Linked DNA regions of Homo sapiens: regions 1, 3 and 4 are each linked to region 2. Evidence: fine-mapped expression QTL. A gene starts in region 2. Each other region holds a variant in brackets. All regions are shown on one strand. Distances are from middle to middle.

Evidence for each region. PIP is the estimated chance that this variant, and not a neighbour inherited with it, causes the effect. A credible set is the group of variants that fine-mapping cannot tell apart.
Region 1: its variant is the best candidate, but not a certain one, in a credible set for the expression of LINC00339 in monocytes after interferon gamma (Fairfax 2014, PIP 0.59).
Region 3: its variant is the best candidate, but not a certain one, in a credible set for the expression of LINC00339 in prefrontal cortex (ROSMAP, PIP 0.76).
Region 4: its variant is the best candidate, but not a certain one, in a credible set for the expression of LINC00339 in neutrophils (Naranbhai 2015, PIP 0.51).

The regions. Positions count from the first base shown.
Region 1 is chr1:22,064,725-22,071,824 of GRCh38, reverse strand. All of the region lies in intron 1 of CDC42 (cell division cycle 42), which reads right to left. It also overlaps the pseudogene MPHOSPH6P1. Among named protein-coding and RNA genes, the nearest start is that of CDC42, 16 kb to the right of the region's middle. The variant C/T (reference allele first, on the strand shown) is at 4,338.
Region 2 is chr1:22,020,978-22,029,041 of GRCh38, reverse strand. It overlaps LINC00339 (long intergenic non-protein coding RNA 339), which reads right to left and starts at 3,851. Exons shown (of 2, transcript NR_023918.2): 1 at 3,670-3,851. LINC01635 (long intergenic non-protein coding RNA 1635) reads left to right here and starts at 2,994. Exons shown (of 3, transcript NR_110692.1): 1 at 2,994-3,078; 2 at 4,076-4,236; 3 at 4,597-5,048. RefSeq lists enhancers at 2,872-3,166, 3,244-3,353, 2,965-3,566 and a silencer at 6,003-6,122.
Region 3 is chr1:22,042,272-22,047,763 of GRCh38, reverse strand. No RefSeq gene overlaps it. Among named protein-coding and RNA genes, the nearest start is that of CDC42, 7.7 kb to the left of the region's middle. RefSeq lists an enhancer at 2,462-2,631. The variant C/A (reference allele first, on the strand shown) is at 2,546.
Region 4 is chr1:22,111,604-22,119,667 of GRCh38, reverse strand. WNT4 (Wnt family member 4) reads left to right here. Exons shown (of 5, transcript NM_030761.5): 5 at 1-2,355. Among named protein-coding and RNA genes, the nearest start is that of WNT4, 27 kb to the left of the region's middle. RefSeq lists a silencer at 366-535 and enhancers at 1,551-1,600, 3,094-3,263. The variant C/A (reference allele first, on the strand shown) is at 2,274.

The sequences.
Region 1 (7,100 bases), 43 kb before region 2:
TAAAAGTAAAGTTGCCTTCATGTGAAATACGTTTGCCCCTGAAGTAACCCATTTTCATACTTAGGATACAAGAAAGAAGAGGCACTACAGGAATCAAGAGAATGACCCAATTTCACAATCTTCCTTATCAGTTCAACAGAAGGACTAGTCTGGTTGTAGGATTAAACAGAATAAAATCAAAACTACTTGTCTCTCCTGTCAAATCCAGCCACTTTGGAAAATGCAGCTTATATAACCTTCTGCTGTAAGTTATAGTAGCATATCTAACGTACAATTTTTTAAACACCTACCCATGCATGTGATTTTTAGGCAACCAAAAGTACTCAAACCACAGCAATGTATTCCATGCATTCACACACGTATGCAAGTGTGCTAACAAACTGTCTTGTTTGCAGAACTTCTTGTTTGCTTCTATATCACAGAAGACATGTAACAAAAAGCATACAGCTGGCCTTATATGTTTGTTAGAAATGCTTGTTCCGACCGGGTGCGGTGGCTCACACCTGTAATCCCAGCACTTTGGGAGGCCGAGGCGGATGGATCACGAGGTCAGGAGATCGAGACCATCCTGGCTAACATGGTGAAACCCCGACGCTACTAAAAATACAAAAAAATTAGCCGGGCGTGGTGGCAGGCGCCTGTAGTCCCAGCTACTCGGGAGGCTGAGGCAGGAGAATGGCGTGAACCCGTGAGGCAGAGCTTGCAGTGAGCCGAGACCGCGCCACTGCACTCCAGCCTGGGCAACAGAGCGAGACTCCATCTCAAAAAAAAAAAAAAAGAAAGAAAAAAAAAGAAATGCTTGTTCCTCAGTGCCGTAAAGAAATAGCACTTGAACATAAATTTAATTTTCTCAGCAAGGCCATTTATACCTTCTGCAGAAAGGATACACTTGCCAGCAGTTTTGCCACAAAAGTACACCGAGCAAAGGAGACAGGGTCATTTATAACCTGACGTGTCTATCCTACTGCTGTGTCCGGTTTTTATTGGCTGGAACGGGACCTCACGTTTTGTATTTGTCCTGATAGGCTAGCAACTTACAACTTTTAAAAAGAGGCAAAGAAGGCCAGGCGTGGTGGCTCACGCCTGTAATCCCAGCATTTTGGAAGGCCGAGGCAGGCGGATCACGAGGTCAAGAGATCAAGACCAGCCTGGCTAACACAGTGAAACCCTGCCTCTGTTAAAAATACAAAAAAATCAGCTGGGCGTGGTGGTGGACGCCTGTAGTCCCAGCTACCTGGGAGGCTGAGGCAGGAGAATGGCATGAACCTAGGAGGCGGAGCTTGTAGTGAGCCAAGATCATGCCACTGCACTCCAGCCTGAGCAACAGAGCGAGACTCTGTCTCAAAAAAAAAAAAAAAAAAAAAAAAAAAAAAAAAAAAAAGAGGCAAAGGCAGAGGACAACAAAGGAAGGAGGAAGTAACTTGTGGAATGCTGAGAAAGGTAAAAATACCTTTAAACAGGCTATGACCTAATGCTTGCTTGGACCAGTATAAGCATGCCAGGGCAAATATTTAGGCTAAATTGTGGGAGCTAAGAACATAAAGTACACTGATTTATTTATTACAGCTAGCAGATATTTAAGAATGTTAGCAAAGGTCTTTGAATAAATTTTGCTTTTAAGAGAAGTTACTATTTATTTCTGATTAGATGTGGGGGAAGTCTTTGAAGAGGAATCTCTACTTTACTTTTTACATGTTCAATTAAGAATACAACATTGCTTAGAAAATCCTACCCAGAGGCTGGGCACAGTGGCTCAAGCCTACAATCCCAGCACTTTGAGAAGCCAAGGAAGGTGGATTGCTTGAGGCCAGGAGTTTGAGAACAACCTAGGCAACGTGGCAAAACTGCGTCTCTACCAAAAATACAAAAATTAGCTGGGCATGGTGGCATGCGCCTGTGGTCCCAGCTACTTGGGAGGCTGAAGATCATCCGAGCCCAGGAGACGGAGGTTGCAAGTAAGCCAAGATTATGCCACTGCACTCCAGCCTGGGCAACACAGGGAGATGCTATCTCAAAACAACAACAACAAAAACAAACAAACAAAAAAACCTCTACCAAGGCTGGGTGTGGCGGCTCACGCCTGTAATCCCAACACTTTGGGAGGCCAAGGCAGGAGGATCACTTGAGCCCAGCAAATCAAGACCAGCTTGGGCAACATGACAAAATCCCATCTCTACAAAAAATTAAAAAAAAAAAAAAAAAAAAAAAAAAGTGGTGGCATGTGCCTGTAGTCCCAACTACTGGGGAGGCTGAGGGGAGAAACCACCTGAGCCAGGAAGGTCAAGGCTACAGTGAGCTGTAGTCACACCACTGCACTCCAGCCTGGGTAAGAGAACAAGACCCTGTTTCGGCCAAGCGTGGTGGCTCACGCCTATAATCCCAGCACTTTGGGAAGCTGAGGCGGGCAGATCACTTGAGGTCAGGAGTTCGAGACCAATCTGGCCAACATGGTGAAACCCAGTCTCTACCAAAAATACAAAAATTTGCCAGGTGTGATGGCGCTCACCTGTAGTCCCAGCTATTTGGGAGGGTGAGGCAGGAGAATTGCTTGAACCCAGGAGGCAGAGGTTGCAATGAGCCGTGATTGTGCCACTGCACTCCAGCCTGGGGACAGAGTGAGATTCTGTCTCAAAAAAAAAAAAAAAAAAAAAAAAGGAATAAAATGGAGATTACAATAAGATGTTTTCCTCAAAATACTCAAGACTTGTAGATCTACTCATTCATCTACTCATTCATTCAACAAGCCTTTACTAAGTACCTACCACGTGCCAAGCTTTGTCCTATACGTAGGCACACCCCACAATTCACATAACAAAGTTCACGCCCTCTTGGAGCAACAATTCCAGTGGGGTACACAGACAATAAACAAGCATCACCCCCTACATATTCTTCCTTCAATAATACTACCAACTGACATCCTTACATGTAACTTTCTCATTCTAGTCTCTTAACTAAGAAACAGCAGGTGGCCAGAACACAGCACAAGCTGAAGCCAGCATGGCACCTGAGCACAAGACCAAGTTCTCCAAGAACCTGCTGTACATGAAGTTCATGCAAAGAAGACTGGACTCAGAAACTAAGAAATGACTAGAAGAGGAAGAAAATAAAATTAGTTAAGAGCACTGGTACTCAGATTTGCCAGAGCTTAATAAGTAAAGAATTTCATAACAGAAGAGCAGCATCTCTTGTTATGTGAAGATCATTTCTATGGAAGGAATTTCATTCATCAGATTTACTCCTGAGGTTGAGAAATTAGTGCTTCAGGTGAATACTAAGAACAAAGCAGAAATTGAAGATGAAACAGTGGAATTTTACGTGTCAGATGAAGAAGAAATGGCTAGAAGAAATGGCTAGAATATGAGACCTTGGTGGGGACAACAGGAAAAAAGTCTGCCAAAAAGGGAGATCAAGCCAATTATGAAGACAATGAAAATGGAGACCTACAACTAATTAAAGCAAAGAAAATGTTCTTAAAGCCCCGGGATCAAAATACAGAACTTAAGAGATGGCTCAGAGATGCCTTGTGAAAGTTAGCAGCATGTTTTGTAACTAGTTCTGATGGTGCCTCTATAGTTATTAATACTATAACGTTTATTTGTAAAGAGATGTATAATTTTGGAAACATGCTGTTTTTGAAACAGATGTGTAATGGATGTCATACATCCTCTGCTAAATGGTACTGAGTGGATTTTTAGCCCTTGATCTTCAAATATACAGGTTTCCTAAAGATTTTTTTTGTTTTTGAGACAGGGTCTCACCCTGTCACCTAGGCCAGAGTGGAGTGGCTCAATCACAGCTCACTGCAGCGTCAACCTTCCTGGGCTCAAGGGATCCTCCCATCTCAGCCAAATCTTGGGTGTCTGGCCTTACAACTCACCCTATTTTCAAGCTACCCTTCCACTACAAAACCTCTCCTTCTCTGAGACCTTTCCTAACTAGTCTAGGTATTGAAACTGCCCCAACCGCCTGACCACCTGCTATGTTTGTGTCCCAAAATTCATAAGCTGACACCTGATCACCAGTGTGACGTTGTTAGAAGGTGAGACTGCTGGGAGGTGATTAGGTCCAGAGGGCAGAGTCCCCTCATCCCCAAATGGGATTAGTGGCCTTATAAGACACCCCAGAGAGCTCCCCTACCCCTTGCACCATGCAAGAAGACACAGCAAAAAGGAACAAACTGGTATGGGCGCAGTGGCTCAGGCCTGTAAACCCAGCACATTGAGAGGCCGAGGCAGGCGGATCATCTGAGGTCAGGCGTTCGAGACCAGCCTGGCCAACTTGGTGAAACCCTGTCTCCACTAAAAATACAAAAATTAGCCGGTGGCGCATGCCTGTAA[C/T]CCCAGCTACTCAGGAGGATCGCTTGCTTGGGAGGTAGAGGTTGCAGTGAGCTGAGAGCACCAAAGCGAACTTGGGAGGCGGAGGTGGGAGTGAGCTAAGATCACCACTGCACTCCAGCCTGGGAAACAGAGTGAGACCGTCAAAAAAAGAAAAAGAAGAAAAGAAAAAACCAGCATCTATGAACCACAAAGCAGGCCCTCACCAAACATCAAATACGCCAGCACCCCAATATTGTCCTTCCCAGGATGCAGAACTGTGATAAGTTTCTGTCGTTTACAAGCTACCCAGTCTATGGTATTGTTAAAGAAGCCTAAACGGACTAAACAGAACCCATGGCAAGGCCCTTCTTCTTGCCTTCTCAAACCTTCTCATGCTCCGTTCCCCTGTACTCTCCATGCTCTAGCTACACAGGTCTCTTACCTCCCCAGACGTGCCAGGCTCTGTCCTGCCTTCAGGTCTTTTTTGGCCCAATCTCTGCTCACCACAACCTCCGCCTCCCAGGTTCAAGCGATTTTCCAGCCTCAACTTCCTGAGTAGCTGGAATTACAGGCATGTGCCACCACACCCGGCTAATTTTGTATTTTTAGTAGAGACGGGGTTTCTCCATGTTGGTCAAGCTGGTCTCAAACTCCCAACCTCAGGTGATCCGCCCACCTCGGCCTCCCAAAGTTCTGGAATTACAGGTGTGAGCCACTGCACCCGGCCATGCCTTGAAGTCTTTACCAACAACACTCCTGCCCCTGCTCTTAAAGCTTTTGGCTTCTCACTCTCCAGATCTCAGCTCGAATCATCATCTCCTCCAAAAGTCCTCCCCTGACCACATTATCCAGGGCAATAGTACCCTCCCTCCTTACACTCCTTTCATATTACCTTATTTCCTTTATTGTAAGGTCATAATCTATAATTATCTTGTTTATCTGTCATATGGCAGTAGAAACAGACTTTTAAAAATAAGGAAATCTCCATAAAGGTAATAACTGCTGTATGCCCACAAAATAGCTCAATACCAGTCACACAGGACACACTCACCGAATAAATGAATCACAGGAGTAATTAACCATGTTATTTTTAGTCACATATGCTTACTTTATTCTAATAGATTTTTTTTTTTGGAGACAGGGTATCACTCTGTCACCTAAGCTGCAGCACAGTGGCGCAATTTCAGCTTACTGCAACGTCTGCCTCCCACGCTCAAGCGATTCTCCTGCCTCAGCCTCCCAAGTAGCTGAGACTACAAGCATGCACCACCTCACCTCACCCAGCCCCTCTAATAGATTTTAAGCTCTCTGAGAGAACAACTAGGCTTATACTTCTTTATTCCCCGTCCCAATGCAGCCAATACAATACTGAACAGTATATTAAGGGCAAGAAAAAATAAAATTCTTAAATGTCTTTTACAACTTTGTTGACTAAAGTAGTAATATGAAAAAAACGCCCAGGCACAGAGGCCTGTAATCCCAACACTTTGGGAGGCCAAGGTGGGTCAATTATTTGAGGTCAGCAGCTCAAGACAAGCCTAGCCAACATGGTGAAATCCCGTCTCTGCTAAAACTACAAAAAATTAGCCAGGCATGGTGGCGCACACCTGTAATCCCAGCTACTCGGGAGGCTGAGGCTTGAGAATCGCTTGAACCCGGGAGGAGGTTGCAGTGAGCTGAGATCATGCCACTGCACTCCAGCCTGGTTGACAGAGACTCTGACCCCTCCCCCGCCCCCCAAAAAAAGACGAGATTTTTAAAGACAAGCAAATATGGGTTCCAATCTTAGCTCCACCTCAATGTGTACGATCCTGGCAAGTTACTTCACTTCTATGCCTTAACTTTCTCGTCTACAAATTGACATCTAATTCACAAGACCACTACAGAGAAATGAGGTAATGTATATAAAGCAACTGGTACACACACCACCTAGCAGAGAGTAAATACCTAATATGGCACCTTATTCTTACGCAAAATTAAAATCTGCAGAAACAGCCCTAAAAAGGTCAGAACAGTTGTTAAGTAAAAGCATCTAAATATCATGAATAAGAGGGAACTCAGAAAAATCCTTGCTTCTCCTAGGGAGGGTTATTTGCTAATTTTATCAATCCTTTCAGAAATCCCTTCATTCCAATCTCAAAGAGCAATTTAATTTAATAAGTGTCACATTTGTAGCCAAGAGATTCAAAATATTACAGAAAGGGCTGTAAACCACCTCGCCCTATTTTAAGAGACGAAATAACCTAATCACACAGCAAGTATTTCTCAAGTCTCTAACATGCCCAAGGAAGACGACAGAGTTGCAGTAAAGGGCATATGCTTTCAATCAAGCAGCCCTAAAGCTCAGATTCCCATTCTTGTGTGATTTTGGGCAAGCTACTTAAAACTCTTTTAAGCCTCGTTTCCTTTGTAAAACAGAGACAATAGTATCACCATCACAGGTTGTCAGTCACTCTGCAAAGAGCACTTAACACTCAACTATGAACTCTTACTATCAACGTGAAATAATCCAAATATGCAGGCAATTTAGCGGTGGCTCACGCCTGTAATCCCAGAATGCACGCCTGTAATCCCAGAATGCCGAGGTGGGTGGATCACCTGAGGTCAAGTTCGAGACCAGCCTGACCAACATGGTGAAACCCTGTCTCTACTAAAAATATGAAAATTAGCCAAGCGTGGTGGCAAGTGCCTTTAATCCCAGCTACTCAGGAGGCTGAAGCCAGAGAATTGCTTGAACCCCGGAGGCAGAGGTTGCAGTGAGATTGCGCCACTGCACTCCAGGCT
Region 2 (8,064 bases):
TGCCTGTAATCCCAGCTACTCGGGAGGCTGAGGTAGGAGAATCGCTTGAACCCAGGAGGCAGAGGTTGCTGTGAGCTGAGATCGTGCCACTGCACTCCAGCCTGGACAACAAGAGCAAAACTCCATCTCAAAAAAAAAAAAAAAAAAGGTGGCTCACTTGAGCCCAGGAATTCGAGACCAGCCTGGGTAACATGGCAAAACCCTGTCTCTACAAAAAAAAAATTATCTGGGTGTGGTGGCACATGGCTGTAGTCCCAGCTACTGGGAGGTAGAGGCTGCAGTGAGCTGTGATCACGCCACTGCACTCCAGCCTGGGCAACAGAGTCCTTGTCTCCAAAAAAAAAAAAAAAAGAACCCAGGTTAAGATCAAGAATGAAGCACCTCTGATCAGTGTATGGGACTTGTCAAAATCCTAATAGAGTACACTTCCAACTCTTTGGATATTTGAGAGCTCCAGGATTATCAAACCAGCTATAGCCGTGGGGGGCGGCGGGGCGGGAGGCAAATTAAATACCTGTAAAATGCCAGAAAAAAAGCCTTTGCTTCATTTGGGCTAGGGCCCCAGTTCAAAAGAGGAGTTATTTACAGGAAAACACATCCTATGTTAATTAACTTTAAAACAAGAGAGTTCAAATAACAGAAATGACTAAATTAATTCTCACATTAGGATACAGCCCCATGATGCAGTCACTTTTCAAGGATCATCATTTTCTTTTTTTTTTTTTTTTTTTTGAGACGGAGTCTTGCTCTGTTGCCCAGGCACAATCTCGGCTCACTGCAACCTCTGCCTCCCAGGTTCAAGCAATCCTCCTGCCTCAGCCTCCTGAGTAGCTGGGACTACGGCACGTGCCACCAGGCCCAGCTAATTTTTTTTTGTATTTTTAGTAGAAATGAGGTTTCACCATGTTAGCCAGGATGGTCTCGATCTCCTGACCTCATGATCCACCGCCCTTGCCTCGGCCTCCCAAAGTGCTGGGATTACAGGTGTGAGCCACCGTGCCCGGCCCATTGTTTTCTTTAATACTCTCTTCCCTCAAAGAACTAATCCCTTCCAGACATATAATACATAGCAGGAGAGCTGACATTTAAAATCCTTCCCACCTCAGAGAATCTCTCAAATCTGTTTCCTGAGCAACAATTGACAGAAGCCAACAATCACTAACGCTGACTAGCTGCCGTGCACCCAGCACCTAGTCATCCCTTCTCTAAAGGTTCCCTGACCCATTTCTTAGGAGACTTTAATTGATTCTAGACCCAGCACCTTGGATATTCTTGGGAGTACACCAATTCTTCTCACATTATCTTGGTTTTTGCTCAGTTAATAAGGTGTGCTCATCCCCCAAAGTAAGCTGTTACTAACCTAGGGTGGTGAATAGGGAAAAGCAGAATCACTTAGGGTGAGTTGGACTAAAATATTTCGTCCAAGAAAGGTTGGGTGAAACACTGTGGGAAAGCAAAATCTTGGGAACAACCTAAGTGACCATCAACAGGGAAATGACTGAAGTACCGTCAACCACTCAGTGGTGCCGCCACGTAAAAAATGAAGCAGGCTTATGAGTACTGGTAAGAAAGCTGTCCATATCACAACATGACTAAGGTCCCGATCGATGTGTAGTATGACCCCCGATCTGAGGAAATTAAAAATACATAAATACAGATACAAATAAATAAAACCTGATATATCCAAATAATAGATAGAAAGTTATCAAAGAAATTAATTGTATTTACTTCTGAAGGGCAGAAACAGTAGAAGGGGGAAACACTTTTCATTTTACATCTTTCTGCATTGTTTTCTAACTACACACATGTATTACTTTTATAACAACTCAAGAGGAAGAAAACTTCTCAGGCTTTCCCCTCCTGCCCAAAAACCTTTCTGAGTGAAAACCCCTAACCCACTTAGGAAAACACCCTTTTATTACTTCTTCTAGCTCCCAGCACCCAACGTCTTTACAACCCAGGTTTCTAGGAACAGACTGTCAGTGGGCCTTTTTCTTTCCTTTTTTTTTTTTTTGAGACAAGTCTCACTCTGTCGCTCAGGCTGGAGTGCAGTAGTGTGATCTCGGTTCACTGCAACCTTTCCTCCTTCTGGGTTCAAGCAATTCTCTGCCTCAGCCTCCCGAGTAACTGGGATTACAGGTGCCCACCACCATACCTGGCTAATTTTTATGTTTTTAGTAGAGATGGGGTTTCACCATGTTGACCAGGCTGGTCTCGAACTCCTGACTTCGGGTGATCCACCCGCTTCGGCCTCCCAAAGTGCTGGGATTACAGATGTGAGCCACCACGCCCAGCAGTCAGTGGGCCAATTCTTAAGGCTGGCTCTCAAAGATGAACCAGCACCACAATTTACCCGGCTTATAAATCCTGTCAGCTTCAGAAGACGACTTACCAAACACAAATTTATCCTCACCAGTTAATAACTCCTTTTCTTTGCTCAAAAACCCAGTGAGAAAAAATAACTCCAGGCCAGGCACAGTGGCTCATGCCTATACTTCTAGCACTTTGGAAGGCCGAGGCGGGTGGATCACCTGAGATCAGGAGTTCAAGACCAGGCTGGCCAACATGGTGAAACCGTCTCTATTAAAAATGCAAAACATTAGCCAGGCGTGGTGATGTGCGACTGTAATCCCAGTTACTCGAGTGGCTGAGGCAGGAGAATCGCTTGAACCCATGTGGCAGAGAAGGTTGCAGTGAGGCGACAACGCGGCACTGCAACTCCGGCCTGGGCGACAGAGCGAGACTCCGTCTCAAAAAAAAAAAAAAGAAAAAATAACTCCAGTGCACTGCGCCCTTACTTCCTATCTAACATTGTGCCGAACGTTATACACAGATCCTCCTCCGTATGATCCTTAGTTCAGGATCATAAACTCTTGATAAATTACTGCCCCAGGAACCTCCAGTGACATCAACCGCTGCTACCATTTGTGGAATTCTGCCGGCCAGACACCCCACACTGCATTCCCTCACAACTGATCCTCCCGATAGCCCATGGGGTAGGCACTGTTATTTCCATTCACAGATAAGCAAAGTGAGGCTCGGAGGGCGGGGACTTGCCCAAAGCCACAAGGATGAAAGGTAGTGCGATGACTCAACCGATAAAAATAATCCCGGTTGTGGTGGGGGGGAGCTGAGCCCGACTCCTCCCACTATGCTGCCGCGGCTCCGAAGGCCTAGCCCGAGTGCGGAAATGGGCTTCTAGGGTCCCAGGACGAGGTCCACCTCCAGAGCTGCAGTGAGGTCCAAGTCAGCCCGAGGAGCCCGCAGGTCCCACATTTCAGTCATTTCCCTACCCCAAAGGCAGGGACTCCCCGCTCCTGGGGCAGGCAGCCACTGTGGCCGCGAGCAAGCGTACTCGGGTTAGGAAGGAGAAGGAAGGGGACAGGGGGAACGTTCACCTACGCAGCTGCCACCTCGGAGGACGGGGGAGCGGGGGACGAGGAAAGATCAGGATAAGACCCTAACTCCCACAAATGACTCCAGGAAAGGGAGACCACCACTCCCCGAGCTTTGGAGCGCCGCGCGGGAACCGGAAGTCATGCCCCGCCCGGAAGTTAAGAGGAGGGGCATAGGTTGGAAGGGGTGGGCCGGGTCTCTCTAGCCTCCGCGGTACTACGCAGCTTCATGGTTTTAACTCTTGGTGGTCTTTTGACCGTCCTCAGTCCTTACCGTGCGGAGTTTTGGATACATTCTTAGCAGCTTTTTCGCTCCGGAGAAGTTCTTTATCTTTCTGAGCCGCAGTTTGCCCAACTGCAAAATGGAAAGAGATGAAGCAGGAATTAAGATACTCTAGGAGCTCGCCCACAGCTGATTCAGGGCCCCATTCTGAGGTTACACCCTTAAGCCTTTGCACCACTCAAAGGAAGGAAACCAAGAGAGAGGGGTGGCTGGCTGCTGTTTGGAGACAGTGGTCCTTGTATTGGCGCCCCGCGGAATCACTCCAGATGAGTCAGTGGATACAGTCTATAGGTCCCGCCTCATTGTACGCAAACAGCAGTGGGCATATGGCCGTGGGGGGTTGATACAGCCTGTCCGGGGTGGGACTCTGTGTGTATGGGAGGCTAAATCTCAGCAGGACTTTTCCAGTTGCTACCAGACTACGCACTGTCGCCTGATGGTTAAGAACTGAAGCTTTAGCCGTGCGCGGTGGCTCACGCCTGTAATCCCAGCACTTTAGGAGGCAGAGGCGTGTGGATCACCTGAGGTCACGAGTTCGAGACCAGCTTGACCAACAAGGTGAAACTCAGTCTTTACTAAAAATACAAAAATTAGCCGGGCGTGCTGGCAGGCGCCTATAGTCCCAGCTGCTCGGGAGACTGAGACAGGAGAATTGCTTGAACCCGGGAGGCGGAGGTTGCAGTGAGCCGAGATTGCGCCATTGCACTCCAGCCCGGACGAGGGAGCAAGACTCCATCTCAAAGATGAAGCTTTGAAGTCATACTGATCTGGTTTGCGTCTGATCACACAGGTTCAATGACACAGCCGGCTAGAGGAAGCAGAGATGCTAACCACTGCAGCCCCGATCTTAACCCTGAAGGGGAGGGATTGAGCTGTTAGAGAGAGGTACTCAGTTGACTTCTCCCTCTCTCTTTCCAGCTGGCATATCCGAATGGGCTGAGCTACCGGATTAAGAGGGACACCCCAAAGCCCCCATTGCTGGGTTATTGCTCCAGAGCCAATGTTCTTGGGGAAAGGAAGATATGCCCTTTGTCAACATTGCCACTGCTGGTCTGTAAACTCCTAGACGGCCAGCTGGTGGTTCACAAACCAGGACTCCTTGCTCTGGCCCTACCCCTACCTACCAGAATGACCGTGAACCCTTCCCCACTCACTCCTACAACCAGGTTTCCATCTCCTCTCTCAGCTTAGGTTTCCCTAACTGTAAAATAAAAGGGTTGGACTAGGTTAAGGACTTCCTGCTATTTCTCTCTCCCACACTCTAAGGTTCCTTAGGAATGCTTCAGAAAACAGCAGGGGTTGGGGCAAGGATGCCGCTTGAGTCCCAGAGCAACTCCAATTTCATAGGCACATAAATTTATGTGAAAGTATATACGTTTCGGCTTGTGTAAGATTATTTTATCATCCCAGGTAAAATTCAGCCTTTGTGCTTCATCTTTCCCCACCCTCCTGCTCACTCAGTTTGCTCCAAGAACACTGACCTTCTGGCTATTTTGCAAATCTGACAATCTGACAAGCTCATCTTCACTTCTTTTTTTTTTTTTTTTTTTTTTTTGAGACGGAGTTTCGCTCTTGTTGTCTAAGCTGGAGTGCAATGGTGTGATCTCGACTCACTGCAACCTCTGCCTCCCGGATTCAAGCGATTCTCCTGCCTCAGCCTCCCGAGTAACTGGGATTACAGGCACGAGCCACCACACCCGGCTAATTTTTTGTACTTTTAGTAGAGACGGGGTTTCGCCATATTGGCCAGGCTGGTCTCGAACTCCTGACCTCAGGTGATCCGCCCACCTCAGCCTCCCAAAGTGCTGGGATTACAGGTGTGAGCCACCACGCCCAGCCTTTTTTTGAGGCAGAGTCTCATTCTGTCACCCAGGCTGGAATGCAGTGGCATGATCTCAGCTCACTGCAACTTCCACCTCCTGGGTTGAAGTGATTCTCTTGCCTTAGCCTCCCAAGTAGTTCAGATTACAGACTTGCACCACCCTGTCCAGCTAATTTTTGTATTTTTAGTAGAGACAGGGTTTTGCCATGTTCCCCAGGCTGGTCTCGAACTCCTGACCTCAAGCGATCCACCCACCTCGGCTTCCCAAAGTGCTGGGATTACAGGCGTGAGCCATCGCACCCGGCCTCATCTTCACTTCTTTTGCTGATCTCTGCTTGCAGTGCTCTTTCCTGAGATCTGTTCACCCAGGTTCCAGTTCAACTGTAGCGTCTCCTTTTCTGCCCACCTCCTCTATCCCCCGACCCCGGGCACCCTTCCAATTCCTTTATAACCTGTTACTTTGTTTTTGTGATTACCTAGTTATTTTCTATCTCATCCACTAGAGGCAGTGTCCACAAAGCTAAGGACTTTGTCTGCCCTGTCACCACCATGACCCCAGTACTTAAAACTGAGCATAGGCCGGGCACGGTGGCTCACACCTGTAATCCCAGCACTTTGGCAGGCCGAGATGGGCGGATCACAAGGTCAGGAGATCGAGACCATCCTGGCTAACACGGTGAAACTTCATCTCTACCAAAAATACAAAAAAATTAGACGGGCGTGGTGGCGAGTGCCTGTAGTCCCAGCTACTCGGGAGGCTGAGACAGGAGAATGGCGTGAACCCGGGAGGCGGAGTTTGCAGTGAGCTGAGGTCACGCCACTGCACTCCAGCCTGGGCGACAGAGCAAGACTCTGTCTCAAAAAAAAAAAAAAAAACAAAAAAACAAAAACTGAGCATAGGAGCCAGGCGCAGTGGCTCACGCCTATAATCCCAGCACTTTGGGAGGCCGAGGCAGGCGGATCACCTGAGGTCAGGAGTTCGAGACCAGCCTGGCTAACATGGTGAAACCCCGTCTCTACTACAAATACAAAAATTAGCTAGGCATGGTGGCAGGCGCCTGTAATCCCAGCTACTCAGGAGGCTGAGGCAGGAGAATTGCTTGAACCTGGGAGGCGGAGGTTGCAGTGAGCTGAGATCACGCCATTGCACTCCAGCCTGGGCGACAAGAGTGAAACTCCATCTCAAAAAAAACGAACAACAACAACAAACTGAGCATAGGCTGGACAAACACTGAATGAATGGATCAATGAGTGAGTAAAGGAACAGAGCAGCTGGGCGTGGTGGCTCACACCTGTAATCCCAACACTTTTGGAGGCTGAAGCAGGAGGATCCCTTGAGCCCAGGAGTTTGAGACCAACCAAGGCAACATAGTGAGACCCATCTCTACAGAAATTTTTTAAAAATCAGCCTGGTGTGGTGGTGCACATCTGTGGTCCCAGCTACTTGGGAGGCTGAAGTGGGAGGATCACTTTAGCCCAGTAGATTGAGGCTGCAGTGAACTGTGATTGAGCCACTGCACTCCAGCCTGGGCGGATAGAACAAAACTCAGTCTCAAAAAAAAAAAAAAAAAAGGTCTGGGCATGGTGGCTTACGCCTGTAATCCCAGTACTTTGGAAGGCTGAGGCGGGTGGATCACCTGAGGTCAGGAGTTCAAGACCAGCCTAAGCAACATGGTGAAAACCCATCTCTACTAAGAATAGAAAATTAGCTGGGTGTGGTGGTGCATGCCTGTGACCCCAGCCACTTGGGAGGCTGAAGCAGAAGAATTGCTTGAACCGGGGAGGCAGAGATTGCAGTGAGCCAAGATTGTACCACTGCACTCCAGCCTGGGCAACAGAGTGAGACTCCATCTCAAAAGCAAAAAAAGAAAAGAGAAAGCCTGAATTTTATGACAAATCCAATCTGAAAAAGACCACTAGGGATGTAGCTGTAGTTTAACAAAATTAGGCTTATTAACTTGATGTAGCAAGAGAGACAACACACCAGAGAAACTGTGGAGGGTCTCACCAAACAAAAGAAGAAATGGGATTATCATAGGATTTGGAGGAGGTTGGAGTTTAGGTGAAATTGAAATGAAGCCGTGTTGATAGGTGCAAAGCAAAGCTGGCAATGTGTAAAGGGGTTAACATCTGGCGTGGGCTGAGAATCAGACTCAGAGTCTTGTTTCCTTGGACACCACAAAGGTAAGACAAATATAGACTATTGTGTCCAAAAACCCTTTATCTGAAGCTCTGCATCTGGGTAGATACAGGCTATGTCTCTGTATCAAACCTGGCTCTTCTGACCCACTAGAGAAGCGTGGGATGTTCTGCTCTCACTGATGTGATTTCAAACAGCAAAGTTTCTGACAGTCTCTGATTTTAGAGAATGAGATTCCTTTTTTTTTTTTTTTTTTTTTTTTTTTTAGGTGGAGTTTCACTCTTGTCGCCCAGGCTGGAGTGCAATGGTGCGATCTCGGCTTACTGCAACCTCCGTCTTCTGGGTTCAAGCAATTATCCTGCCTCAGCCTCCTGAGTAGCTGGGATTACAGGTGCCCGCCACCACACCCAGCAAATTTTTGTAT
Region 3 (5,492 bases), 20 kb before region 2:
CACTTTGGGAGGCTGAAGCGGGAGGATCACTTGAACCCAGGAGTTTGAGACCAGGCTGGGCAACATACTGAGACCTCATCTCTACAAGAAATATAAAAACCGTGTGGTGGCAAGCACCTGTAGTCCCAGCTACTTGGGGAGGCTGAGATGTGAGGGTCGCTTGAGCCTGCGATGTTGAGGCTGCAGTGAGCCATGATCATGCCAGTGCACTACACTGCACTCCAGCCTGGGTGACAAAGCAAGACCCTGTCTCAAAAAAATAAATAAAAAGAATCTCAGCTGGGTGCGGTGGCTCACGCCTCTAATCCCAGCACTTTGGGAGGCCAAGGCGGGAGGATCACGAGGTCAGGAGATCAAGACCATTGTGGCCAACATGGTGAAACCCTGTCTCTACTAAAATACAAAAAATTAGCTGGGTATAGTGGCGCTCACCTGTAGTCCTAGCTACTCAGGAGGCTGAGGCAGGGGAATCGCTTGAACCCGGAAGGCGGAGGTTTCAGTGAGCAGAGATCGCACCACTGCACTCCAGCCTGGCCACAGAGCAAGACTCCGTCTCAAAAAAAAAAAAAAAAAAAAAGAATCTCTACTTTAACTCATTTGACAAAGCACAGCATTTATCTTCCTATATCATCGCTCTGATTAGGTCACTCCCTTACTCAGAAACCTTCAGTGTTTTCTCCTTTGTCTTCAGAATAAAATTTAAGACCTTTGGTTGGGTACAGTGACTCAGACCTGTAATCCCAGCACTTTGGGAGGCCGAGGTGGGCAGATCATGAGGTCAGGAGTTTGAAACCAGCTTGACCAACATGGTGAAACCCCATCTCTACTAAAAATACAAAAATTGGCTGGGTATGTTGGTGCATGCATGTAATCCCAGCTACTCAGGAGGCTGAGGCAGGAGAATCGCTTCAATCTAGGAGGTGGAGGTTGCAGTGCCTGGGTGACAGAGAGAGACTCCATCTCAAAAAAAAAAAAAAAAATTTAAGACTTTACCCAGACATTCTATGTCCTCTATGATCTTTGCCTTTCCAAAGTGATTTCCCTTTCTTTTTGTATTAGTCATAGTTCTCCAGAGAAACAGAACCAATAGAATGGTAATATATATTATTTATATATTACATATAAAACCATTCTGGCCATGTGCAGTGCCTCACACCTGTAATCCCAGCACTCTGGGAGGCCAAGGCGGGTGGAACACTTGAGGTCAGGAGTTCGAGACCAGCCTGGCCAACATGGTGAAACCTCATATCTACTAAAAATACAAAATTAGCTGTGTGTAGTGATGCGTGCTTGTAATCTCAGCTACTTGGGAGGCTGAGGCAGGAGAATCATTTGAGCCCAGGAGGTGGAGGTTGCAGTGAGCCGAGATCGAACAACTGCACTCCAGCCTGGGCGACAGAGGGAGACTCCATCTCGAAATAATAATAAAAATAAAACCATTCTCTATATAGAGAGTGGTTATATATACATATAGAATGGTCTATATATAATATATAAATTATATATTATATAATCATACATAATATATAAATTATATATAATAATCTCTATATATAAAATATACATATATATATATAGAGAGAAAGATTTATTATAAGAGATTTATTATAATTGGCTCACTCACACGACTATGGAGGACAAGTCCCAAGATACACAGGGTGAGTCACTGAGCTGGAGACCCAGGAGAGCCAATGGTGTAGCTCCAGTCCAAGCCTGAAGGCCTGAGAACCAGGAGAGCTGATGTTTCAGTTCCAGTCCAAAGGCCAGCAGGCTCAAGACAGAGGAAGAGCCAGTGTTTCTCTTTGAAGTCTGAAGGCAAGAAAAATTCTCCCTCAGTCAAGGGAGGGTCAGCCTTTTTGTTTTATGTTGGCCTTCAACTGATTGGATGAGAGGGCAATTTGTTTTGCTCAGTCTCCTGATTCAGATCTTAATCTCATCCAGAAACAAGTTTGCAGTCACACCGAAAATAATGTTTGACCAAATATCTGGGCACCCCATGGCCCAGTCAAGTTGACATATAAAATTAATCATCACACCTTCCACTACACACCTATGCTACAGCTAGACTGTATAATACTTAGTATCATACAGGCAGGAACCATGACTTCTCACCTCTCTGCCACTGCTCATGCTGATCCTCTTCCCTAAAACACCTTTCCTGCTTATCCATCCTACATGTCAAGTCCACTCTTCTTCCCACCATGAACTGTACATTTTGCCAACATCCACCTTGTGTCCTTTCCCACCTCTGTGCCTCTGTGGATTCAGTGGCTCCCTTCTCTGTCTGCCAAACTCCACTCTTCTCTCCTTCAAGGACTGGCCTAGGCCTTAGTTTTGAAATCTCCCGACAACCCCAGGCAACCAATCAGTCTTATATCACTTTGTATTTAAAGCATCTCATATTGGAATTATTTGTATCTATTTATGCTAAACTATTAGGCCATAAGCAGGCAGAGATCTTATTCATTTTATTTTTTTTTACCTAATTTCCTGGCACACTGCCATCCCTCAAAAATGTTTGATAAATGATGCATGAATGCATACA[C/A]CACCACCTCTTACACAAAGCCAGCTCTGCTTCCCACTGCCAAAAGGGATTGCTGGCTCTTCTAAACCCCCAGAGCCCTTATCAGAGCCCCTCTCCAGGCCCTCTGTCTGGGCTATCATGTTTACCCACACTTTTTCCACCCTACTGCAAGCTCCCAGGGGCAAGCTTGGTTTTGGATGCATTGCTGTGCCCCTCACAGTCCTCTTCAGATCCCTAGAACACTTTGGCTGAATGAGAGAAGCCTCATACTGCATTCTCTGCCAAATGCAAGACTGCAAATCCACCACCATCTCCCCAAGGGCCTGCCAAGATTTACTAAAGAAGAAGAAGATCTACATTAAAGAGGCTCTCCTCCAAGGTCTTCAGGCTTGGGATTTGTGTGAGAAAATTCTAATTTAAGACTTTCTGTGTGATTCATAGGCAAAAACTGCGAAGAAAACCAAGGAAGTGATTATCATACAAATTCAGCTAGTGGCCGCCTCTAAAGGGGGTTAGAATCTGGAAGGGATGGGGGTACTGGGGGGGCAGTGTTGGCAGTGTTCTATTTCATGACCTGGGTGATGATTACATGGATGTTTGCCTTATCATTATTTATTCTATGGTACATGTTTTATTTGCTTTTCGTATGTGTAATAGTTCATTAAAAAATAAAAGGCCAGGTGCAGTGGTTCATGCCTGTAATCCTAGCACTCTGGGCGGCTGAGGCAGGTGGATCACTTGAGGTCAGGAGTTCAAGACCAGCCTGGCCAACAGGGCCCGTCTCTACTAAAAATACAAAAATTAGCCAGGCATGGTGATGCATGCCTGTAGTCCCAGCTACTTGAAAGGCTGAGGCAGGAGAATGGCTTGAACCCGGGAGGCGGAGGTCGCAGTGAGCCAAGATGGTGTCATTGCACTCCAGCCTGGGTGACAGAGCAAGACTCTGTCTCGAAATAAATAAATAAATAAATAAATAATAAAAGTTAGGGCCAGACACAGTGGCTCAAGGCTGTAATCCTAGCACTTTGGGAGGCTGAGGCGGGCAGATCACTTGAGGTCAGGAGTTCAAGCCTGGCCAACATGGTGAAATCCCATTTCTACTAAAAATACAAAAACTAGCAGGTGTGGTGGTGGGTGCCTGTAATCCCAGCTACTTGGGAGGCTGAGGCAGGAGAATCACTTGAACCCAGGAGATGGAGGTTGCAGTGAGAGGAGATCATGCCACTGCACTCCAGCCTGGGCAACAGAGTGAGACTCTGTCTCAAAAAAAAAAAAGTTAAAGCCTAGGCAACATAGCAAGACCCTCGTCTCTACAAAAAAAATACAAAAATTAGCCGGGAATGGTGGTGTGCGTCTGTAGTGCTAATTACTCAGGAGGTGGGAGGATCATTTGAGCCAGGAGTTCAAGGCTGCAGTGAGCCAAGATCACACCACTGCACTTGAGCCTGGGCAACAGAGTGAGACCACCGTCTCAAAAAAATAAATAAAAATTAATTAAAGTTGAAAATAAATATATTAAAGTATCTCTGTTGTTGCCAAAAGGTTGATGTGTTGTATAATTCATATCACTGAGACCGCAGCCCACCCCTCTTTCCTGATTCCCCTGGCTGGTCATGGCCCAGACCTCTCCAGGAGCCCCCCAACCCTACTGCCAGGACTCCAGCCGTGTTCCTGGTTTACCTGCTGCACCACAAGGGGTTACAGCTGCTGGGGCTGCCTCCACTAAGGGATCTGCTCCCTCTGCAGCCCCTCCAGCTGTTCAGCCTCCCTCCTCCACTTATGCCCACATCATTATGCTTGTCTAGGGACCTGAACCCTTCCTGGAGGCAGAGAAAGGGGAGGAACTCACCAAACCTGTTTCCTTCTTGCCTTTTCTCTAACTGGCCCAGGCTTGCCTCCTTCATCTTGCTTACACATCTCTGGCAAAGATAATCTGGGTCACTGAACAAGGGTGGATGAGAAAGGATAGGGGAAAGAGTAAAGTCCAGAAATAACTGAGCAACTCTGTCCCCATCGTGTAGGCCCTTGTCCATCTCTCCAATCTCATCAGGACCACGTACTCACTCACTGGGCTCCGGCCATGCCGCCCTGGTTGCTGTTCCTCGGACACACTGAATTTATTCTGCCTAGCTCAGAGGCTTTGCTCTTGCTGTTCCCCCTGGTTATCTGTACACACCTGCTCCCTTCCACCCCACAGGAATTTGCTCCAATACCACCTCTTCAAGAAGACCTCTTCCTTCTCAGCTTAACTAGCACCCCCCACCTGCTATCACACGCAGCTTTGCTTCCCTCATAGTGCTTATCTCTATCTGAAATGGTCTCAGTTCTGTATTTTTCTTACTGTCTCCTCCCATTAAAGCCAAGTAAAACCCAGTAAATCCAAGGACTTGCTTCATCACTGTACCCTCAGTGCTAGAATATAGTGCATACTCAATAGAAATCTGTTAAAGAAATACAATAGGCGGGGCGCAGTGGCTCACTCCTGTAATTCTAGCACTTTGGGAGGCCTAGGCTGGCAGATCACAAGGTCAGGAGATCGAGACCATCCTGGCTAACACAGTGAAACCCCGTCTCTACTAAAAATACAAAAAAATTAGCAGGGCGTGGCAGCGTGCGCCTGTAGTCCCAGCTGCTGTGGAGGCTGAGACAGGAGAATGGCGTGAACCCAGGAGGCGGAGCTTGCAGTGAGCCGAGATCGCACCACTGCACTCCAGCCTGGGCGACAGAGCAAGACTCCGTCTCAAAAAAAAAAAAAAAAAAAGAAATACAATAAGACCATAAGACCAATCCCTACTCAAGGAATTAAGGACTCCCAGTGGGACAAACAATAATTAAAACGAGGCTGGGTGGGTGCGCTGGCTCACACCTGTGATCTCAGCACTTTGGGAGGCTGAGGCAGGCAGATCACCTGAGGTAAGGGGTTCGAGACCACCCTGGCCAACATAGTGAAACACCGTCTCTCCTAAAA
Region 4 (8,064 bases), 91 kb before region 2:
TGGCAGGGAAAATAGGTACCGACTTGATGGAAGTCACACCCTCTGGAAAAAAGAACTCTTAACTCTCCAGCACACATACACATGGACTCCTGGCAGCTTGAGCCTAGAAGCCATGTCTCTCAAATGCCCTGAGAAAGGGAACAAGCAGATACCAGGTCAAGGGCACCAGGTTCATTTCAGCCCTTACATGGACAGCTAGAGGTTCGATATCTGTGGGTCCTTCCAGGCAAGAAGAGGGAGATGAGAGCAAGAGACGACTGAAGTCCCACCCTAGAACCCAGCCTGCCCCAGCCTGCCCCTGGGAAGAGGAAACTTAACCACTCCCCAGACCCACCTAGGCAGGCATATAGGCTGCCATCCTGGACCAGGGATCCCGGCTGTGCCTTTGCAGTCATGCCCGAGTCACCTTTCACAGCGCTGTTCCTCCATGAAACTGAAACACACACACACACACACACACACACACACACACACACACACGGACACACACACACACCTGCGAGAGAGAGGGAGGAAAGGGCTGTGCCTTTGCAGTCATGCCCCTGAGTCACCTTTCACAGCACTGTTCCTCCATGAAACTGAAAAAGGAAAACACACACACACACACCTGCGAGAGGGAGGGAGGAAAGGGCTGTGCAATAAAGTCCTCTCCCATTATCTTACTCAACACAATTTATTGAGCAAATACTACGTGTTCTAGGCCCTGTACAGGCCATCTCACTTGATGGCCACAACAGTCCTGGGAAGCAGACAAACCAAGAATGCTAATGCCCATCTGACATCAGAGACGGCAGTGCTCCCCAGACCTCTCACAGCAAGCTGGATGGACAGGCAGGGCCAGAAGAGTCCTCCAGCCAAGCCTCCTCCTTGGTTCTTGTACCCAAAGGTAGAGAAACTGCAGGTCTTCTTGGGTCTGAGCCTGGGGCAGGGGTTCTGGCTGGACGAAAAGGGGCAGGGAAGCAGCAGGAGCCAGAGACCACAGGCTGAGCTGGAGCCCACATGGTTCCTAAGGGCAGAACAGGCTCTGAGGAAAGATGTGAACAGCTGGAAGGCTGACAGTGAGGTCTCAGCAGTGTGGTGCACCCCTCCCCAGCACATCCGAGTCCCTGGGGTCCCAGGTACCATAGGTACTGCAAGATTTCCCAAGAGACAGCACCAGCAACCTGGGCCTGACCCTGTACAACCGCCAAACCATCACGAGCCCCGCCCAGGCTTGTGAGAAGGACATGCATGGATCAAGACCTTGCCCTTGACCCATCTGCTTCTCAGATGGGCTCCCAATCACCAGAGGAAGTTGCTGTAAGCCCACTTTCCAGACTGCCCCCACACTGGGGCTCTAAGTTTCAGGTCGGAGATTTTATGCTCTGTGATCCCCCACTTGGGGTTCCCAGACTCCAAGCTCCTGGCTCCTGTGTTCAGTGGCTGAATTCAACGTCCGAGATTCGGAATATGGGCTCCAGCCTGCAGAAACTCTTCTCCAGGCATTGTGGTTTGTGCCTCCTAGTGTTGGCTCCCTCATGAAAAGAGGGTCAACACCCTTGGCCCCCAGCCAAGATCTCTGCTCAATGTCCATACAAGGAGGAAGCCAAAACCAAGTGAGGTGCTGGAGCCACATTCAAATGTGGTTGATAATCTTGGGGCAGGCCAGCTCTGATGTGGATGAAAGCTGATCCAACTGTCGCCACAGCTGCCCAGCTGGGTCCGCTGCTCCCCTGGCTGGCTGTTCAGCTGTCTACTAAGCCCAAAAAAAATACTATGCCTCACTAGCAGAGGCTAGACCCAGAAAGAGGGAACAATGAGGACCCCTCCCCTCCCAGAGGAAAGAGCTGAGCCACTCTCCCCATCCAGGGAACAGTAGGTCCAGGCTGGATGCTGGTATGATGGGAACTGCCCTTTTCACCTGCCAGGGAGTTCCTAAAGCTGATCTTCCTGGGGTTCTGAAGGTTGCGACCTAGGTTAATGAGACCAAATTCTAGGAACCACTGCCCAGGCCAACCACCGCCAGTGCTGCAGAGATCAAAGAAATCCACAGCCACAGGAAAAGGAGCTTCTTTGGACATGCCCAGCTCCAAACTGTCCCAGGGGGAACTGGCACAGCCCTTACATAGCCCACCCCCTCTTGGCCTCACCGTGGCCTGGAAATTGGCCAGAGGGTCCACATCCTGCCCAAACCACTCTCCTCTCGTCCCAAGGCAAAGGTGATGCCCTGAGGCCTAGGGCTGGATAAAGCCCAGCTCTGGATGCTGCTAACCCACTCTGCTGCCCCACCCCAT[C/A]CTCCAATTTTTATACTAGGCTCTTTGCCATTGTGACGTCCCATGACATAGTCTGATGCACGATAAAACAATTATTTCTTTATCTTGCAATTGTGACAGTGACTTTTTTTATAGAATAGGGAGAAGAGACTTGGAGAAGGTCATGGGAATAGCAGACAAATAGTAGCAAATTCTATATATAGGGGCCCCTTTGCCTTCTTAATAGGTGGTTTGAGGGCCACAAGGACCCACCTGCATGCTTTCTGAAACTTCACTGTTAACACACAAAGGCTTCTTCGTGTGCATTTCACTGGGTCATGACCAGCTACTTAAACCTTGGCCTAGTCAGATCTTTCAAGAGTATTGATGAGGGCCTGGTTGAGTAGAGGGCCTGGTAAACTGGGTACTGACATGGGAGGTAGGGGATGAGGGAAAAGGACTTAGTTTCTGTCCTGAGACATGGGAATCCAAGGACTATGGCTCACAGGTAAACTCCAGGATTAGAATCCAATTAGAATAAGGAGTCTGGGTGGAAAACTTCAAGTAACTCAAGTCTAAAGCCACAGCCAAGGGAACTCGTTGCTGATGGGAGATCCAGGGTGGCTTCTCAGGAACCTCCATTCTAACTAAGTGAAGTCCTTATTCTTACCAAGGTAGGCCATGGCCTATCCCCCACCCCCGCTGCAGCAAACTCACAGCAGCCGGGGAGTGGGTAGGCTGCTCTGTGCTCAGCTTTCCAAAGGCTTAGCAGGGTAAAGGGCTAAAGAAAAGTGCTTTCAGGACAGCAGGGGTGCTTATGAATTTGTGAAGAATCGGGGGCAGGGGCATAATAGACAAAGGGAGGTCCCGGACACGGTATAGAGTATGGGTGGACAAAAAAGGACACCTCATCCTCAGAAAGGCAGGGAGAGGGGATAGAGGGTACCAGAGCAGCAAATAAGTCAAGGTTAGCAACATAGTGAAACTCCACCTCTACAAAAAATTCAAAAATTAACCTAGCACAGTGGCACACACCTGTAGTTTCAGCTACTCAGGAGGGTGAGGAGTGGGGATCACTTGAGCCTTGGGGACAGAAGTTGCAGTGAACTGAGACTGCATCACTGCACTCCAGCCTAGGCAACAGGGCAAGACCCTGTCTCAAAACAAAACCAAACCAAGAAGTCAAGGTGACCATGCTGAACCATTTTCTAGCACTATGCAAAGGTCCCAGGCTTTGAAATCAGATAGACCTGGTTTGGATCCCAGCACTGCCACTTCTTCACTAGATAAAACCTTGGACAATTCATTGTCCTCTCCCAGACTCATTTCTTCATCTGTAAAATGGGCCTGTCCCACCCCCTTAAACACATACTTCAATGGGGCTAGATAATAATAGAATCTATTTATTGGGGGTGTTAAATAAGAGAACATTGGTAAAGTTCAACAACTCTTCTAGAAAACTGCTGGCTCCTTTGCCCAAATGCCCTCACCTCAGTTGCTGCCCTGAGCTCCCTCAGCATCTTCTCTAATTCTCCCTCTTCTCCTTGTGTCTACCCTCCCAGACAACTCTCACTGGAAATATTACTATTCCCTTTTCAGGAACCTAGGAGGCAGTTAAGGTCATGGCAGTTGAGGTCATTGTAAGTTGAAGAGAGCAGGAGGGGGGATGAAACGAGGAGTGGCTCAATCCCTCTAATTCACATGGAACAAGTTGAGGGCTGAGGCAGGTGCTGCAAGACTTTGACCCTACCCAGAGCTCAGAAGCAGGCAGATCTTTACCCAAAGTAGAAAACCCCAATAGGAGAGCAGAGAATCCCAGAGGCCAGGAGACCCAGGCAGCAGCCAACAAGGTTATAGCAAAGCTGTCCCTGGGCACCAGCTGGAGGGGCTGATTGAGATCCCAATGTCTGGGAAAAGCAGGGCAAGGCCAGAGAGCAGGGCCAAGTCGGAAGTGCAGACAGGAGTGCCAGAGCTGCAGGAAAAGGTGTAGTGGGCCCCAAGCGCTCTGCCTGTGGGGACGGAAGTAAGACTTTCAGGCTCCCAGGCTGGGTCCGCTTGCAGAGAGCCTGTGTCCAGGCTCTATCCTCGTAGCTGCCCTCAGAGCTTGGGCCTGAAGTTCTCTAGGAGAGCCGTGAAAATGCAGTGACAAAGTAGACCTCCTTCTCAGCCTCTTCCTGAGAACAACCAGTCCATGGGAAGTCTGGGGAGCAGTAAAGGCCAAGCAAAGGCCAGAGAACACAGGAAAACAGGACAGAAGGGAAGTCTAGGAACTAGACAACTGCGGGAGACTAAGAAAGGCTAGACACAGAGTGACGAAAAGGCAGAGAGGGAGGACAGACATGAGGAAGACAGGGAGAAAGAGACAAGAAGAGAGAAGATGCTGTGGGAGCTCAGAGCAGCGACTGAGGTGAGGGTGTCTGGGCAAAGGAGCCCAGCAGCTTCCTAGTAAGAGGAAAAAAGTGCTGAGCTTCAGGAGAAAGTGTCTGATTCAGAAGGGGAGCTGGAGAGGCGGTCTTAAGGCATGTGGGGGAGGGGTGTGTGGAACACAGCCTGGCCTGGCCCAGTCGATGACTTCATAAGCATCTCCCCCGATTCCTTCCTGAGCCGCCAGTCCTGGTGACCCCCTGCCCACATCTCAAGGGTCTAGGCCAAGCAGGCGCTGACAGGGGAGAGAAGGGGCCCTTCTGGGCCAGGCCCCCAAGCCTGGCACAGTGCCTGCTGCGGGAGGAGGGGACTGGAGGCCCAGCCCTTGTCAGCATCCCGGCCGGCACTTCGGAGGCAATTAGCAGCCCAGCTGAGCTAATCCCCCGCCTGGCGAGGCCAACACAAACAGGCCTAGACCGGGTGCACACTCACCTCCCTGTTTGCTGAGGGGCTCGGTGGTCCGCCAAGAACAACACCAATAACCCAGGGCCTTCTCTAGGTTAAGAGGAGGACCGGGGCCTGCTGAAGAGCTGACAGTGCCCGACAGAGCACACTCTGGCCAGGTGCCCTGGCTGCCCCAAAAAGGCAGCCACTGTTCCCAAGCCTTGGGCCAGTCGGGAAGAGGAAGTTGGACACAAGGAGCCATGTATTCCAATTCAGCACACACCCCACCTCCTCGTGCCACCTGTGAGGAAGAAGGCCCCATGCAAGCTTGTGCCACCTTGGCCAGTCCAACAACTGAGACCAGCAAGGGCTGGGCCCTCTGGTCAGGGCCCAAGGATTACAGGCTCAATGCTGGACAGGGAAAGGCCAGAGGCAACTCAGACCTGGCCCCTGCCCTCAAGGAGCTCAGTCAAGCCAGAGAACAGATTGTGTGTATGACCTTGGAGCAGTGCCAGTCTCTAGCCCCACCAGCACCCCAAGACTTGGGAAGGCTAAGGTAGAACCCTCAAAACAAAGAAGGGAAAGGGGGACCCAGGAGAAGGAACTGAGGCCCAGAAACTGATCACTGTGAAAGATGGTGCAAAAGCCAGTGGAAAGGACCCAGGACAGGTTTTGTCAGACTGGTCCTGGACCAGGCAGTGGCTCCTCTGGGCTTAATTAGCTCAATTCGGCAGCCACTGGGAGAACCCAGACCCCAGGCATGGCGCTTCTCATGTAGCCCCGCTTCTTTTAATTTTTGAGGCAAAGTCTCCCTCTGTCACCCAGGCTAGAGTACAGTGGCACAATAATGGCTCACCGCAATCTCTGCCTCGTGGGTTCAGGCAATTCTCCTGCCTCAGCCTCCCAAGCGGCTGGGATTCCCGGCGCCTGCCACCACACCCAGCTAATTTTTGTATTTTAGTAGAGACAGGGTTTCACCATGTTGGTCAGGCCGGTCTCGAACTCCTGACCTCAAGTAATCCACCCGCCTCAGCCTTCCAAAGTGCTGGGATTACAGGCGTGAGCCACCGCACCCAGCCTAGCCCCCCTTCTTGATTCCAGACCAACTCCACCTTCATCAGCTCTGATCCCCCTTTTGAGCCAAAGCCTCCATCCTCAATTTGGTTCCTCACCTACCCAAGGACTCCCTTTTTTTCTTAAGTCCTCACAGGCCTCCTGCCAGATATAAGGGTCAACAATGGACTTTGTAGCGACATCAGGAACAGTTGCCTCCTTGAAGCTTCTACTTGAGAAAGCAACAGACATGGCCTCCCTGAGAGAGTGATGCAGGACACTACTAATTATCAATACTCAACACCACACCATTTACTGAGCAACTCACTGACCGTGGGTCAGGCCTGCACTAAAGCACCATTTACTAGCATTATCCCATGTCACGTTCATAGGCAAGCAAGTGAACACAAACATTTCCTGTCAGATAAACCAACCAAGAGGCAGGTGTAGGCTTCATCGCTATTTTACGGGTGAGACTGAGACCTACAGAAGGGAAGAGACTTGCCCAAGGCCGGAACCTAAGGCTTCAGCCTGCTGGTCAGGATGGAATATGTTATCAGAGCCCCTCCTCAGTCCCACAGACCCTCCACTTCCCTCACTCCACTACTGGCGTAGACCTACCCTTGGTGCTTCCTGGCCAGAGGGCTTCAGAGCCTTGAGCCTACCCCTCCTCCCCATACAGGAGCATGAAATCTGTCTCTGGCTGGGCTAAGCTGAACTCTGTCACTCTGCTGGAGAATTACACATCGCTCTACAGTTTTCTCTTTAAGGCAGGGGATGAGGAAGCCTGGAGTCACATTGCTAGAGCTGACAAAGCCATAGCTGGAAACAGCAGCCCTCCCCCCACCCCTTTCCCTGGCTGGCGTGGCAGAAGAACTTCAGGCCCAGCTCCAGGCCTGTCAGATTGGCTGTCAGGTGCCTGCCTGCAGCAGGAAGGGGCTGACAATCCAGTCCAAACCCCTTTTGGGCTGCTCCCACACCTGGCTCTAGAGCATCTCGCCTGAACCAAGGTATAGATGAGTTGACGAGTCCTTTTCCCTTCAGTTCAGCCAAACAGGGAGGTATTTTTCAAAAACATCTTTTACTAGGAAATTGAAAGAAAACAAACAGATCGTAAGTACACAGAAACAAGCAGATTCCTAAGCAGGACTTTAACCAGCACCTAACCAGAGCTCTATAGATGCTTGCTTCTCCCTTCTTTCCTCATGAAGCCTCTTTCTAGGCATCAGAAGACCTGGGGTCTCATTCCTCATTGCTGGCAGCCTGAGGAATCTGAAGCAAGTTCATAAACCTCTCAACCTCATCTGTAAAGTAGAGATGAAGATACCGCAGGGCCAGGACTGGACCCAGTTCTAATTCTAAAGCCTCCACTCTACACAGGCTTCCTGACCTCACACTTCCACCATTACGGTTGCTGGAGGCCCAAGTGAAACACTGTATGGAGAAGTGCTATATGGACTGGGAAGGGCTATCAGGGATGCTGACGGTAGTCACTGGCCAGAACACTGGCTCTTTCCTTAAGAGTGAGGGAAGTATATACTGGGCATGTGGAGAATGGCATTCCAAGCTCCTGGTCTCATCAGGTTTAGGTGACACTAGAATTTGCTTGCTGGATCTCTCTTCTCCCATCTCTCCTCCTCCTTCCTTCCAGCACCTCCTGCAACCTGGGCCTCCTCCCCCATCCCCTTCTTGGACAGCAGCTAGAGCCACCTGGGAAGCTTCAAGAATGGCTGATGGTTATCGCAGCCAGGACAGGGCGAGCTGCTGCCCCTCTGATTCATCATAGAGCTGGAGTGGATCCAGAGAAGTGACCAAGAGGATCCAGGGCTGCTGCTATGAATTCAGACAGCTTCAACTGGGAAAGAGGGAGGCTGAGAGGAGCGGCTCAATCCCTCAAATCAGAAGGGTGTGAGGAGAGGGGACTTGAGACTTGCTCTCCAAAACAACAGGCAATAGTGTGGTGGGAAAAGCC